Linked DNA regions of Homo sapiens: region 2 is linked to region 1. The links come from fine-mapping of genetic effects on gene expression. A gene starts in region 1. The other region holds a variant in brackets. All regions are shown on one strand. Distances are from middle to middle. Region 1 holds the start of CYP7B1 (cytochrome P450 family 7 subfamily B member 1). Region 2 overlaps CYP7B1 (cytochrome P450 family 7 subfamily B member 1).

Region 1 (8,000 bases):
CATCACCAAAGAAGAGAGAATCTGTAAATATCTCAAGCTTTTCATAGATTCACCTTGACAAAGAGTAAAACTAAGCTTCCATGAGTTCAGAATAATTAGCCAGAAATGTATCTGCGTGCTAAAACAAAAATCAACACTTCATAGGAAAAAAACAAAATCCAAAATCCAGAAAGATAGTGCTTCCAATCAATAGACTGGCATTATTAAATACTGGCAAGGATGTGGAGCAACGTAAACCCTCATGTATTACTGGCGGAAGTGTTCAGAAAAAAAAAAGCAACAATTACTTCGAAAAGTGTCAATTTTCCGAAATGGTTGTGGATAGAAAACTCTATATTCTATGCCCCTCAATCTTCTCTCAATCAATATGTTATATATATTACAAACCACAATTAAATAGAATGAATGAACTAATGATAGATACAACAACATGAGTGAATCTTAAAATCATTATGTTGAGAGAAATAAGTTATACGCAAAAAAGGATACTGTATAATCCCATTTATATGAAGTTTGAGAATGAGCAAAACTGACTCAGAACTCGGGTAGGAACTGACTAGAAAGGAGTGTAAAATATTTTCCTCTTTCTCCGCCAGGCTCAGTTTCCATAAGGAGAGTGGCCCAGGCCCTCCTCTTCTCCATCAAACCCTTTCATCAGGCGATCTCAACTTGTTCTTGCTTTAATTCCCACTTCACATTTATGGCTTTCACAAATATGTATCCTGCCTGGACCTCTCCCCTGAGCTTTTGGTGCTCACTGCCTATTTAACATAACCCAAAGAGAATTATTGATTTCCTCAATTCTCCCAAACCTTCCCTATCTAAGGAAATGATATTACCGTTCACTAAATAATCAGACAAAAAACCCAAAACCAAAAAAAAGGGAAACAAAACTTCTAAGCTTCATTGTTGATTCCCATCTCTCTCACACATCATGTTCAGTCCATTAGTAAATTATGTTGACTCTGCTGTCAAAAATGTATCCTGATTCTAACCACCTTCCATCAACCCCACAGTCACAACCCTAGGCTAAGCCACTGTCATCTCTCCTGACAAGTACTGCAATGGCATCTGTGATTGACAGTCTCACCAGATAATATCCAACAAGGGAAAAGACAATTTCACAAAAGGAAATCAAAGTACTGTAGCCAAAAGAGGTGGAATTGGTAAGTGTCTGAAGGGAACAAATGACCTCTGAATTGATTTTTACCGATTGTTAAAAATTTTTTTACCATTTTTATAGGTAATATTTAAATTTTTACTTTGGAACATCTGGCATTCCTATACTATGCAATATTACAAACTTTTCAGCCATAATTGTTCAAAAGATGAAAATGGAATGAGAATAAAAATGTAATCTATGTATGTATAAAAATCTCTCAATGTGATAATGGAAAACTGTGCTGAATATTTTTATCATGTTAGGAACAAGAAGGGCTTTCTAAGCAAGGACATATATCCAGAAACTCTTAAACAAATGCAAATTACAATAGTAAAAATAATTGCAGCTGGTATGAAAGAGTATGAAAATTCCCATTACATAAGAGTCTTTGCTGATTATATAGAAAAAGAACCCAATAGAAAAATAAATTATTGAAGAAACAGACAATTATTTTCTTTAAAAGTATACAAATTCCTTTAAAAGTAAATACATGAAAATTTGGGATAAAAATGAAGCTGCATTTTCTTTATGTATCAGATTGGCAAAATTAAAATGATTTATAATACCAGTATTGGCAGAATGTGGAGAAATTGGCACTTGCACTACATTAGTAGTAACATAAATTGAGACTTAGAGTAGTTTGGCAACATCTATTAAAACATAAAGCACACATACATTTTGATAACAACTCCACCATCTTACATAAATATTTCCACAAAAGCTCAAAGATATCTATGTTTTGTGTGTGTGTTTTTGTGTATCTATGGTGTATATTTATATAATCATTACAAATAATGACTTCTATAAACTGACATAGGAAGGGATCTAAAATGTATTGCAAAGTGGAAAATATAAGGTGCAACACAGGGTATATTTCCCCACGATTTTTATTAACATATATTCATGCATATTAGCATAAGCTTTAAAAAATCTGTAAGAATATATCAGGGACTCTTAACCATGTTTCTGTTCTTAGAGGTGATATCTGAAAAATCATTTTCGTAGAGCATTAGGGTAAACTATCCAAACATTAGAAATAAGGAACATGACTCTGTACTGGGACAAATGAAGCTATCTTCTATACACTGAAATGCAGTATAATCAAAGTAGTGTCCTATAGATTTGGGGCATTAAACGGTCTTCCTGGTATGAAGGAATTGGCAGTTGATGGCATGAATATCTCAGTAAAATAATTTTTCATGATATAGAGAAAGATCAGCCTATTCTCAGAATGCTAGAAGAGAAAGCCTACCTTGCCCTTTTGCCTTCCTGTCCCTCAAGTTCCACATTCTCACACCAATCACCTTCACTGATCTAAACTGCCCTAGTCAGCTTGTCTGTTTCTACCCTGCATGTAAAGTGGGAATAGAACCAACAGCCTTCTTTTACCACCTCTCTTTAAAGGCATACCTAGGGGTGCATCTTAACTGGCTTGCAAATGCAAATAGAGACCCTGCAAATAGAGAAGGTGGAACCTACATAGAATCACATACCACTGAAGTTCAAGTGTCCTGAGTCCTCATCTTGGGCTCTAAAGCAAAAGTACAGCCATTGGAAAAGGCAACCTGGAAGCGCACATTCCAGGAACATCTCTGAAAACTGACATGGGAAGAAAGGCAAATACTCCTAGAGTACTCATCTCCAGGCATTCTAGAAATGTCCATAGATATTTGTATGCAGTACAAAGGTGTCACTTCCCCCAAAACTATTGAGAAACAACCTGTATCACACACACATAGATATCTATACATTGATACATATGTATGCAAATATACATACATATATCAATTATCATCCAACAAAATGCATCCGCTTGGTTCTCAAAAGCGATGAACACCAGAGCAGTATGAAAATAGGACCCAGAAAGAAAGGAAAAACAGATTAAACTCAAAGTGAATGATTTTATCTGAACTTCTCTATTTCTACTTCCACAATTCAAATTAAAGTGACACACGTCTAGATTTTGTCATTATTGTGTGTTTTGTTTTGTCCTTATAAAAATGATAGGACAACTGCATAAAATACTCTCCATTAACTCATTTAGTACTCACAAAAATCTCACGAGGCATGTACTATTATTTCAGCTTTCCAAATGAGGTACAGTGAGGTAAACTGAGGAAGAGAGGCACTCAGAGTTATTGTTCACACCATGCACTGGCATTTTCTTGAAACAGTTCTCTTTTAACTGATGAAATTTAAGAATATTCCCCTCCTGAAATGCTCTATGAATTCTAGGCCATAAAATATCAACTCGCAGTGGCAAGGCACACAATGTGTCTGTGATGCATAATGCATACCGCCAACCTAGGGCTTATTACAACTTACGCTGGAGCAGCAAATGGAATTCGGTCCCAAAGCTTTAATATGTACGCGTATGTGTGGGAAAAAGACAGAAGAAGCCTTTGTTATTACAAAGTCCCAAAGGAAGCCAGTACCCCGCAGCAAGTTCTGACTGTCTGCACTGGAAATCATGGAGGGGGACTCCCCTCGCCATCTGGGTCGCGCGCGGCCCGCGGGGCCCAGGGCGCATGCGTGGCCTGGCGGCCGAGGCGCTTACCTGGTGCGCCGGACAAGCAAGCAGAGGGCCAGGAGCAGCAGGGCCGCGGCGAGGGCCAGGCCCGGGAGGCCCAACCGCTCCAGCGAAAAGCGGCCCGTGGCCGCGGACACTTCTCCTGCCATCCGGCGCGCGCTAGGCCGCGGTGGGCAGCCCGGGGTCTGCCTGCGAACAGCGCGGTCGGCGACTCTGCAGCCTGCGGCGGCTTCTCTCGGCGGCGCCCCCTAGTCCAGGGCCGGAGAGGCTGGCCTGCCCGCAGCGCAGACAGGAATGTCACCGTGGTCTCCCAGGCTGAATGACAAAAGTTCGTGGACTGCCCCCTCCCCGCCTATCCTCCACCCACGCGTACCGCCCCGTTCCCCCACCGTTTCCGACCCGGCAGCTTCTGGAAAACAGCGCCCTTGATCCTCCCGGGCAGGAAGAAGGGCCAAGGAAGGGGTTAGAAGGGAAAGAGTTAGGATTTCCCAAGAACCAGCCCTGAAGGCCTGGAGGTGGGGGATTTCGCTTCTTAGTTGGACGGGAGCCCCTTGGGTTCCTCACTTCTTAGCCCGCGCCCTGCGGGAGGAGCGACTCTGCTTGTCCCTCAAGATGCTTGTGAAGGTGCCCGCTGCGCTCTGACACCGGCGATCTCTTAGGTACGACCCAGCGGGGTTGGGCTGGCGGCAGAAACCGGCGGAGTGCGCGACCTCGAACCCGTTTCGCGCCCACCTCCTTCACCCCCTTACATCCTATTTGCTCACAAGTTTTGGTTCAGGCCTGCTGTGTGCAGAGGCGCGTGCCAGAGACACGGAATACAAAGACCTAGGCCGTAAGCCTTTAGAAGTCCCGATGAGGCACACAGTACAGGAAGAGAGTGAGACAGGTAAAAAGAGATTGCAGAACAGCGTGGTAGGGGACGAAAGAGAAGTGGTTCAAGTACTACAGGCTGTACTCAGAAAGAATAAGGGAGAAACTTTTAAAATACCTTTTTCTGAGTAATGACCATCCACTGGGTACTTTACCCACGTTTTTACTTTCTATTTTTAATGTGTATTTTATAGAAGACATAATGAGACTCAGATTAAGTAACTGAACTTGGTTGCTCACTTGATAAATGTTTACCATTCCCACTGATAAATATCGGCCGTTCTAACCACGGTCCTATTCGAGGACTTGTGTGCTCTGTCAATGCAACACTTCTCTGGAATGGGTACAGCAGCTTCAAAACCAATCTCTGGTTTTTTACCCTTCCAGTCCATCATCCCCATTTCCACCTCCCTAAAACACAGACCTCTCCAGCTTTTACTCTGTTCAAAACTCTTAATGGTTGTCTTTGTGACGAAGTCATATCCTCCACCTGCAATGAGAAGCCCTGCACAAATTGTCTTCATTGTACAACTCCCCTCGCCAGAACGGTTCCATATATATACTCAAGCTTGGGCCACCATGTCCCTCATACTCAGCCTGTTCACATTATTAACTTAAAAAATCCATTGTAGTTTTGATTTGCATTTCTCTAATGATCAGTGTCATTGAGCTTTTTTTCATATGCTTGTTGGCCACATGTATTTTGGAAATCAGTGTGGTAGTTCCTCAAAGACAGAACTACCATAGGATCTGGCAATCCCATTACTGTGTATATACCCAAAGGAATATAAATCACTCTGTCATAAAGACACATGCACGCTTATGTTCATTGCAGCACTGTTCACAATAGCAAAGACATGGAATCAACCTAAATGTCCATCAGTGGTAGACTGCATAAAGAAAATGTGGTATATACACCATGAAATTCTATGCAGCCATAAAAAAGAATGAGATCATATCCTTTGCAGGAACATGGATGGAGCTGGGGGCCATTATCCTTAGCAACAGAAAAGCAAATACAGCATGTTCTCACTTATAAGTGGGAGCTAAATGATGAGAACACATGGACACATAGAGGGGAACAACGGATACTGGGGCCTGCTGGAGGGCAGAGTGGGTGAGGAGGGAGACGATCAGAAAAAATGACTAATAATTACTGGGCTTAATAGCTTGGTGATGAAATAATCTGTACAACAAACCCCCATGATGTGAATTTACCTATATAACAAACCTGCACATGTGTCCTAAACTTAAAAGTTAAATACATAAAATAAAAATAAAAATTCACAATTTTTAAGTTTTGAAAAGGAGAGAGGAGACTTTATTTCTTCCAAAGGGTTACAGCCTGCAAGGTGGCCATCCAGGCAAAACTAGAGACAGGCCCTTCAAAGGAGGGCTTGGGGTGGGAGCTTTATGCTGAAGAGGTTGGCTAAACATATATATTTAACTGGTTACAGGAGGAGCTATGAATATTCATGAAGGTGGTCCTGACACATGCCTATTGAACAAACATGCACGTAACATATGACCCATGTTCACTTTGGGGTGGCTACTTAACATTTAAATGTGCTACAGTTATGCTTTATATATCAAAAGATCATTTTACATACAAAGGTAGGTAAGTGTGTAATCTCTGTAAACTGGCAAAACCAGTCAATGGTCAGTGGTCTTCTTAATCAGGAGAAAGTTACTGAAACCAGACTCTTGTCCAATCAAAGCTGTAGTTATGGCTTGTGGAACAGCAGGGTCAGTTAGCATCTGATGGTGGATGAGCTGTGACTTTTAATGTTGCAAATCCTGAGGCCAGTGCTTTTTTAGTTGCTAGAGTGAATAACCTTGTGGTGGTTAGAACATAGTATATATTTTAAGTTTTACTGTCCATGGTTCTAAAGCTGTGAATGGCTAGATTAGCCCCAGAATCTTGATGTTTACGAGCCTCTTTGTCTTTGACTTCTATTCCAGAGTCTGTCTCCTGCCTCTCCTTTCTCCTGTTGTACATTGAATTTTCCAGGCAGTCCAAAATATTGCAGTAAACTGACAGCCACTCTGTCTCTTCCAAGAGAAAACAAATTGAGTGCTTTCCGTCACTGCTGGGACAGCAGAGCCAGTTTACAGGAGGGAGTCCATGCTGGGGCATTTCTGTAACCACTGCAGAGAGCCACTCACTGATTTTCAGAAGAAGTCTCAATCCTCATACTTCTGTTTTCCCCTAGATGACCTTTGTTTAAAAATATAATTAAAATACTAAGAATTCATTCTACTTACTGAACATTTATTATTTGCCAGACACCATACCAAACATATTATTTTATCACATTAATAACAGCAAAAACCCATGGTTGATTGCCCTGCCTTAGAGAAGTGGAAGGAAGAAGCCTGCATAGTTATTTACCAGATTTGGTTTGCAACTGTATCATATTCCTATGTTATCTGCACAGTGGCTTACTTGGGACACTTTATTATATATATGCAATACATCTTAAATATATATTTCTTTTGGGTTTTCCACTTTTATTAAAAGGGACCTTCGCTCTATAACCAGATTAAAACAATCTAAAGATACCTTTTATTTTTCTTTTACTTTCATGGTGGCTCATTATTAGCCTCATTATATTCAATCCAGTTCAATTCAGTTTTAACGCCAAAGTATACCATTATCCCCATCACCTCTCTGACAGAGATTGCCGGTTGACCCTCCATATCTGCTCACCCCTTCCTCCTCAGTAACAGAGTCCTCCATTTTTAACTGAACAAATGCCAGTCCATCATAAAGACTACTTCTAGTTAGCTGGGTGTGGTGGTGTACACCTGTAGTCCCAGCTACTTGGCTAATCAGGAGGCTGAAGCAGGAGGATCACTTTGAGCCCACCGAGGACTTAGAGGCCACAGTGAGCTATCATCAGAGTACACTACTGTACACTCCAGCCTGAGCAACAGAGCAAGAAACCCTGTCTCTCTCAAAAGAAGGAAGGAAGGAAGGCAGGCAGGCAGGCAGGCGGGCAATATAGTGAAACTGTCTACTAAAAATACAAAAATTAGCTGGGCATGGTGGCACGCACCTATAGTTCCAGCTACTCGGGAGGCTGAGGCAGGAGAATCGCTTGAACCTGGGAGGCAGAGGTTGTGGCGAGCCGAGATCACACTACTTCACTTCAGCCTAGGCAACAGAGCAAGACTCTGTCTCAAAAAAAAAAAAAGAAAAGAAAAGAATGAGATGTCACTTCCTTCAAAAAGCTGGGACTAAACACATTAATATTGGATAAAAGAAAGTAAAAAGGCCACTCGAAGGAAGGAAGTAGGGAAGCAGGGAGGGAGGGAGGGGAAGGGAGTGGAGGGGAGGAAGAGGGTGACAGAAAGAAAGAGTAGGGGAAGTAAAGAAAGGGAGAGGGTGACAGATTGTACTTCAGTGACTCACTGCACTAGCCAAGTGACCCTCAT
Region 2 (8,000 bases), 97 kb before region 1:
CAACGTATACAAGAGTGAAAAACATAAAATTCCACCAGTTTTCCAATGTCTCATGCTTTCGAATTTATTTTTTAAAGTCCTAACACATGATGGGTGATAGAAGCTTCTTTTTACTGTCAGAGAGATCAAAGAGAGGTTGAGAAAGAATCCATAAGCAGATGCTGCCCAGTGACAAACCTGAAAGAAGCAGACAGTGGGGCCAGATGTTGGAGTGACCTTTGGTCTGCAGATCACGTTGGCATGGTGTTGATTTAGATAGTTGTTGGCAGAAGCTTTAGCTCCAGCAGCAGGGGGGGGAAAAAAACTAAACTACGGAATTCTTTCCTACTCTTTCCCCTCACTAGAAAACCCAAAACCACTGGTCAGTAGTGCTGATGGCTGTCAAAGAAGTTGAATTCACCACGCGACCCTGCCAGTAGGTATCACATCAAAAGGGAGTTAGCTGAGTGAGTAAGAACATCTTCAGGCTGTGCCATTTTGCATCCCACTCAACTTTTAACAGCTGTTTCTTGAGTGAATACAGACACAAAATAATTATATGAAAAGGACAACATATTCAATATGCGAGATGATATTTACAGTTATTACTTAGTCATTGATAGAAGAGTCAACCAGGAAAAATGCTGGCACATCTGAAACCTGAATGACCTGTTATAATTAGCACCCAGTGAAAGTTCCCTTAAGTTGAACTCTGAACTGTACACTCTGAAGACAGCACAGGAAGTAGGTTTTCATTAAAAAGAATGACCCAAATTAGTACTGAAGAAACAAAAAAATATATAATGGTGTGTTATAGTTTTAAAGACTCCTATCACATTATGTGATTATCCTGATCATTCACTCATTAGAAATTTAAAGGATTTTTTTCTAGTGACCCTAAGGTTCTTAATATTGCAAACACTTGTAAATAAGCCAGATGCCCTCTAATCATAGGTTCTGACAGAATTTTAAATTTCAGCCATCATACAATGCTGCAACACAGTACTTAAATGGAAGCTTGCTTTATAGTATTAGAGATGATTGCAGGCCACATAGTTCTTCTGACACTTTTAGACATTTTGTCACTTTACCTGGAGAAATATACACTGCTTATTCTAAATTGCTGCTGATGTCCAGCACTTGTCAAAACCTCTATCTGTCAAGGCCTTCACAAAGAGTTGAAAAATGACAGATCAGGATGTCTGAGTTGATGGAGCCCCAGGAAAAATGGAACAGATAGAAAATTCATGACTCTAAACTACATCAAAGTGACTTCTGTCAACATCATGTCAAAAGAACTGTTCATTTTTAGAGGTTTTTTTAAAATTATATAAACACTTTTTTGAGTATGAGCTAAGTGTAATGAAAAAATTTTCTTGGTGTACAGTATGATCATCCAAATGTTCCAAAAATACACTTTAGATCATCCAGGAATAAGGAAAATTCTAATAGTAGATACTGTCTGCCAGTTAAAACCAATGACATTCAAGAGAGATGTATGAAGTTACTATCAGCTTAAAATAGGACAAACCATCTGGCTATAAAGGAACAAAAGTATATTTTTTGCATATTTTTGAACACATCAAATTTCTACAACTGGATTAATTTTTTATTCTTCTACAATCAGTTTTGTTCCATTTTTTGCTTAGTGTGACAACTGCAAAGCACTAATTCAGTGTTATTTTCCTAAACAGGTTTCCTAAAATAGCTAGCATTATTTTAATTTTAAAAAAAATTACTGGAAAACCCTCATAATGCATAATTCCCTTAAATTATTGCTTTCAGAAGGAAGTAAAAAAATAAATGGCTTATGTTATGCAGTACTGCATACACAGAACCACTCCATAATCACATTCAAGGAGTCATTCACTGAATGAAATATGAGTTGCATCAATCTGGAAATGACCACTCTCCCATTTTAATTCCCAACACCTTTTCAGGGAGGATGGCTGGCACCTGGTGCTAGAACCCAGACAACTTGAGTCCCACTGCTCATATGTCACTGAGATAAATAGGATAAGTGACCTTGTGAGGACAAAACTGTAGAATGTGCTGTGTGCATATATACTGAGCAGACAGTGGGGACGACGCATAGAATTCACCATGCACACACATCAAGCACACATGTGCAGAGTCACACACACTTAAAAGAGCAATCAAACATGAGCAACTTCCACAGTCACCATAACCGGCCCTAACACAGCAACACTGTCAATCATTTATACCATCCATTTGGCAATTTTGACATCAGTCCTTTCTAACAACCACCAGGACAGGGACCATCTATGATCCTAGTAACGGTGGCCACTAATTCACTGCACTTGTCCAGTGGCACAAAAGGTCCATTATCTGTGACCAGAAAAGTTTGCTTATGTCCAGAATGATGTCAGATCTCAAAAATAACAAGCACTTCCAGTTTTGAGAGAAGCTTGCTTCCCATAGCATTGTGTCAAACTATGTATGGGAAGTACCATCTATTAGGACAAAAAAGTAGGACAAGATCACTATCTCTTATTATAGGCAGAACTCAATATATCTTTTGTTCTACTTACAAAAAAGATGTTTATTACCTGTAAGTGTACAGAGGTGTGGACTTCATGGGAGTCGTGATTGGTAATAAGCCTCTTTTTCTCATTTACATTGATAGCAAGCATTAGTGAAGATATATGCATTTCATTTCATGGTTCAGAAAGAACAAAGTATATGTATATGTGATAGCAGTGGGTGGTTAATGAAATGGTCTGACAAACATAAGCTAATACATAATCATACCAGAATGTGACTGGAACACCTGTTCCTGCTTCACACACTTCCAATTCTTAAGGAAAAGTTACCATTCTGAAGAACTGAAGCCACCACTATTTAGACATCAATATGCTCCAAGGAAATTTTAGTCACTTTTTGTTGTTGTTGTTGTTGTTGTTGCAATCACTAAAAGGTGGCTATTTTAATGATATCAAATCTTTTTTGCTTGTGTCCTAAGAGTAATGAAAACTTCACACATGCATGAAGCTCCAGTAATTATTTTAAACTGCCTTCTGTTGTCCCCCTGAGGAACACGGTGGTATTTGTTTGATGCAGTTTAATTAGTGTCAGGGTAATTAATGCTATGCTATCTACATGAGATCAAAACCCTTTCTTTGTAACACTCTGGTAACTAAGAACTAAGAAAAGGAAGCATTTTGAAAACGTCGAGGCATGGTGTTAACCTGGGTTCACCAGTGAACCCAGTTCTCATCTCTTCCTCCACAC[T/C]TCACCCAAATGGCAATTTCAGTCTCTCCCAGGATAAGATCATGCCCGTAATGCATTGGAACCACACTGCCAGGTATAAGACCCACTGGCTGCTATGGAATTAAACTCTTTCTTTATGGGCATAATCAAATTAACTAAAACATTCATGGTCACCAGGCAGCTTTTGCTGTAGTTTAATCCTTTAATAATGAAATAGTAAACTTTTGCACTGACAGAGAACTAGAGGCCCTTGTAAGCAGGGTGTGATATTACCATGTGCTGATATATTTTTTCAAATAAAAGAATCATTTGGTTTAATGAATGAATGTGATTCTGCTTAAATGCCTGAATAAAATTTGCATTTAATTGTAGGTATAGATAGTCTCTCTATTTGACGATAATGTTAAGAGAGGAAAAAACAGAGATAGGCAAGGAGAGAAGTTAAATACACAAAAATTCCAGACACACACATAACGGGCACTACCATAAATCCTTTTTAACTGTTTCTTTGGTAATAAGCAACGGCAGTATAAACCTCCCAACACACAAACTCAAGCTGATCACAGGCTTAAGGAAATAACTCCAGTTATCTTGACTAGATAAATTATTATATCACAGAGGTTATTCCAGTTTCTAATAAAGCACTGTAGCTAACAAACAAAAATAAAAAGACCAACCATTCTCTTTATTTTATAACAGATGAAATTACAGGCTGCATGGGATCGACACAATGGCATTGAATTTATTTTTACTCTAAAAAATGCACCATGCAATGTTCATTTTGGAACACGACCGGTGCTTTAACACAATGAGGAGAACCAGCATTAGACTGATAATATTTTTTATGGGAAGGGGAGGCTTTAATGGCACATATCTAACAAATAAACATGACTGGTTTTAAGTCAAACCAAATGGACTTAGCCCATTATAGAACTATACTAAGCATGAAAATAACCTCTGCACTGCACAAGAAATGAACAAAGAAAAACACTTCTAGAGGGTAAAAACATTAACTCTATAGTAGTTATGAAATTGTGTCAGTATCCATCAGCAGCTGAAATTAAGGTTAATGTTATAAAATGAGATTTCACTAGCTTAGGCTGGCAGCGTATCACAACCTGAAAGGGTCTGTGCTGAATGCATCTTCTTGAGGTCATTCATTACTGAAAACCTACTGGGATCAGCTGACTAGCAAAATATGTTTTTTCACATCTTCAGTTCTGCTTCCTGTGACTTCGTTGTTTATCAATTAAAGTGATAAATACAAGTGACTTTGATAACACCAGAAACACATTATGTAGTAAAGTAACCTCCAGGAACCCTGCAATAAGAACTGTGTGCAAAGTTCAACAACTGTGAAGGAACTATTGAAGAGGACACACAAACAAGTGACCTTGACTGACAAGCGCGCTTCATTCCAGCAATAAACAGCGGTGGTGCTGATAACTGTTCATTGGCGCAGAGAGTAATTACCTATCTGTCAGCGTTGCTGGTGTGTGCGAAATAGTATAAATGAAACATACATAATGTACGGCAATAATATCGGGCATGCAGAACCTAATGTATTATCATCATTCTCAGGACCCAGGTTTATGTGGTTGCCACCACTGAGTAAATGCCTTCTAGCCATGATAATTTCATTCTAATCTCTGTTCCATATTATAATTTTCATAGCTAAAAGATACTAAGGAGCAATACGTTTCAATCAAGGGCTAAATAGAACACAACCTATAACTGGGTATTTTATACATCTATATTTTTTTTCTTTCAAAAAATTTAGTCAATTTATGAAGAGACTGGAATAAGCTGTAAATTTATGAGTGACAAACCCTGTCTGTACCAATGTCACCATGCCTAGAGATGGGGTGAAAGGGCCTTATGAACGGGTTGTCAGCTTTGTCTCACATTTCTTTCAACAATACGAAATTCTATCTTTTTAAATGCTTCTATTCTGTTCCAAAACAGAAGGTAAGGATGCATTTTTAAACAAAATAAAAGACAGCTCCTATTCAAAAGGAGAAAAATAATCATCTAGTTGCTAAGATAAATTATCTTGATTTGCTTGAATTGCTTAATTATACATAAAACGGAAGCACAGCATAACCCCTTACACCATGATATTCTACTCTTCTTATAAAACTGTCTGGCTCTTACATGCTTGGTTTTTTCCTTTAATGAAAATACAATTTGAAGAAACCTCTAAATCATATTTAATACCATACAAAAGAAGCCAGGAAAATATAGGTAGCAGCTAGGCCATCAGGACCAGTTCCTTGTCTGAAGGATGAAACATTAGAAATCCTCACATTAATAGGGTAAACAAACGAAAGAAGCATATCCCAAACTACATAATAGAAACAGCTGTTGGTCAACGGCTCTGTCATTCAGAAAGGGAGGAGAATATATGAATATTTAGAAAACAAACTGACACGTGATTGTTTTAATCTGGTTCTCTCTTTACAACAAGACAAAATATTTTGGAAACTTTTAGATAGCATGAAATAATAATCAATACAACAGTCTATCTTTTAAAAAAGAGCATTTAAATTGATTGTCCAATGTCACATTTTGAAGATCACAGACATGAGCGATTTGAACTATAGAAGGACTTCATCTTCATCCTTTGGCTTTTTCTTTGCTGGTTTCTCAAAGTTGTTTTCTCAAGTGAATATTGTGGGTAATAAATGATGTCCTGACAGGAGATTAGACAAAGCAGAGAAACAGCTCAAGTTTTTCTTCAGGGTTATCCTTTTGTTTGCTGCACTTTTCTTTCTATATGCCTAGTCAGGACAGAAAGCAATAAAAAACTAACCCATGATAAGTTGTTAGAAGTATGATGTGTTAACTCTCAAAGAAGCATTTCTATTTTTAAAAAGAGGAAAGGCAGAGATAATCCATGGCAGGAAGAAATAAAAACTCTTTTTTTAACTTCCTCAGATCATGACATTAAATAGCTTGTCTATTTTACCCATGTGTCAGCTGACTTCATTGTATGGCTAGCCCAGTACAGAAAAGATTTTTACCCAATTTCAAGTCATTCAATCAAACCTGGCATTCCAGGATACTCTTTCTAAAGAGGCAATATCTGGTAGATGAATAATGTCTATAAATTCCACAGATATATCTTAATCATCTCAGTGGGTTCCCCATTTAATTCATATAATATGACTTTCCTAAGTAACATCTCAATGTGTAGCATTATATGTGTTTTGCATGCAGGTTTAAAAATATAATATGTATCAGAACATAGAAAATTGTCAGGAAAAGGTATAACCTTATTTCATTGATTCTAAGAACAGTAGCACATTTGTTTTTTACATCTTTGCCTCTTTGAAATAGCTTCTTATAGTCTCTGAAAGCCAGGTGGTAAGATCAAGACTGCTCTAACATCAAAGCAGAAAAGTCTTAGACATACCTCTTGACTTTTGCATTCAGGGATATATAACATTTCATGCTGTTCTGGCTTTGAGAAATATCTGTTACACATTTATCTTAAAATGGTCTTGATCACAACTATCACATCTTAAAAAATATCCAACAAAATAATATATTTATTTTATGCTGACATCTAGAGTATGTCTGTGTGGCATGAAAATATCTACTTAATCAATTAAATCAACAACCAGTTGACTTATTGGGGGAAAAAATCAACTACACTTACTTAGTTCCACTGACTCTATTAGGATCATAAGGACCTTGCGTTAGATGTGTTTAGACATTATCTCTGTGGCCTACTCAGTAATTACCTATGATCCCATTTACTGATAATTCTCAACCTAGGAATGGGCAGACAGCCAAGGAACTCTTTCAGTCATTCCCAGCTCTGGCAAAGGGATAAGTCACCTCCTCCTTTTATCTGAGAAGCACTTCCTCGGGGCCAAGTGTATCAGGTGGGTTGTATCTTATCACTCTGATATGTTAGGGCGGTAAAAAGCAAGAACCAGTGGAGAATATAATCTGCATAATTCAAAAAGGTGGGGGGGGGAATCACCACCTTTTCATAATTTTCTCAAATATCCCCAAGGATATTTATCTACAGCCGTGATTAGAATTTAAGTTGTTTATTGTCTCATAATATGTCAGAAAATTGCTATTGCATTTCAGTCATTATTCTCATTGTCTAAAACATCACTTTTTTCAACATAGATGTGTTAAATAAATGAATGAATGACTGAATCAATGAGTGAATGAATGGTATTCTCCAATTCAGATTAGTTATTTTATGAAATCATATATCCTAATTTGATGTTGCAAAGTCCATGCCAAAAAAAAAAAATCTCAAAACATTAAGCACAAAGCACTCTCTTTATCATGTCCTTTGGTTTTTATAAGATTTTTTGGGGGTGAGGGGAGTAATAGAATTACTTAGAATTGACGGTTTTGCAGTTAAGGTACACTTTTAAATCAGAAATTAACTTTTAATATATGGCTTGGTGATGATAATACTGAAGTATGTAAAGTGCAGTTGCCTTCTTATAGGCAATATACTTGATTAATTTTGAACAATTTAACAGTGAAAGATTAATTAAAAATTTCATCCAGTACAGGCCATCTTTCTTTTCCAATTACATTCCTTTAGAGCGGCCATAACTGTTTTAATAATTGCACTGAAAATGCTAGAAAGTATCAAGATAATACAGTGATTCAGTGAGAACAATAAAATTCAGAAAGATGGCACTTTGGTATTTAGAGCATTTAACATTGTGGTGTATAAGCCCTCTGAACTCCAACGGGTTATTTTAACCAAGAAGGTCTAAACTGAGCCTTAATTTTTTTTTATTTACATAAGA

What was found. PIP is the estimated chance that this variant, and not a neighbour inherited with it, causes the effect. A credible set is the group of variants that fine-mapping cannot tell apart.
Region 2: its variant is the best candidate, but not a certain one, in a credible set for the expression of CYP7B1 in adrenal gland (GTEx, PIP 0.84).

What each region holds. Positions count from the first base shown.
Region 1 is chr8:64,794,747-64,802,746 of GRCh38, forward strand. It overlaps CYP7B1 (cytochrome P450 family 7 subfamily B member 1), which reads right to left and starts at 3,991. Exons shown (of 6, transcript NM_004820.5): 1 at 3,720-3,991. The coding sequence starts at 3,841. LOC105375879 (a long non-coding RNA gene) reads left to right here and starts at 4,035. Exons shown (of 3, transcript XR_928992.3): 1 at 4,035-4,351. It overlaps LOC105375878 (a long non-coding RNA gene), which reads right to left. Exons shown (of 4, transcript NR_188111.1): 3 at 7,622-7,739; 4 at 5,853-6,780. RefSeq lists silencers at 3,789-3,898, 3,909-3,958.
Region 2 is chr8:64,698,044-64,706,043 of GRCh38, forward strand. The region is part of intron 1 of CYP7B1 (cytochrome P450 family 7 subfamily B member 1); the gene reads right to left. Among named protein-coding and RNA genes, the nearest start is that of CYP7B1, 97 kb to the right of the region's middle. The variant T/C (reference allele first, on the strand shown) is at 3,232.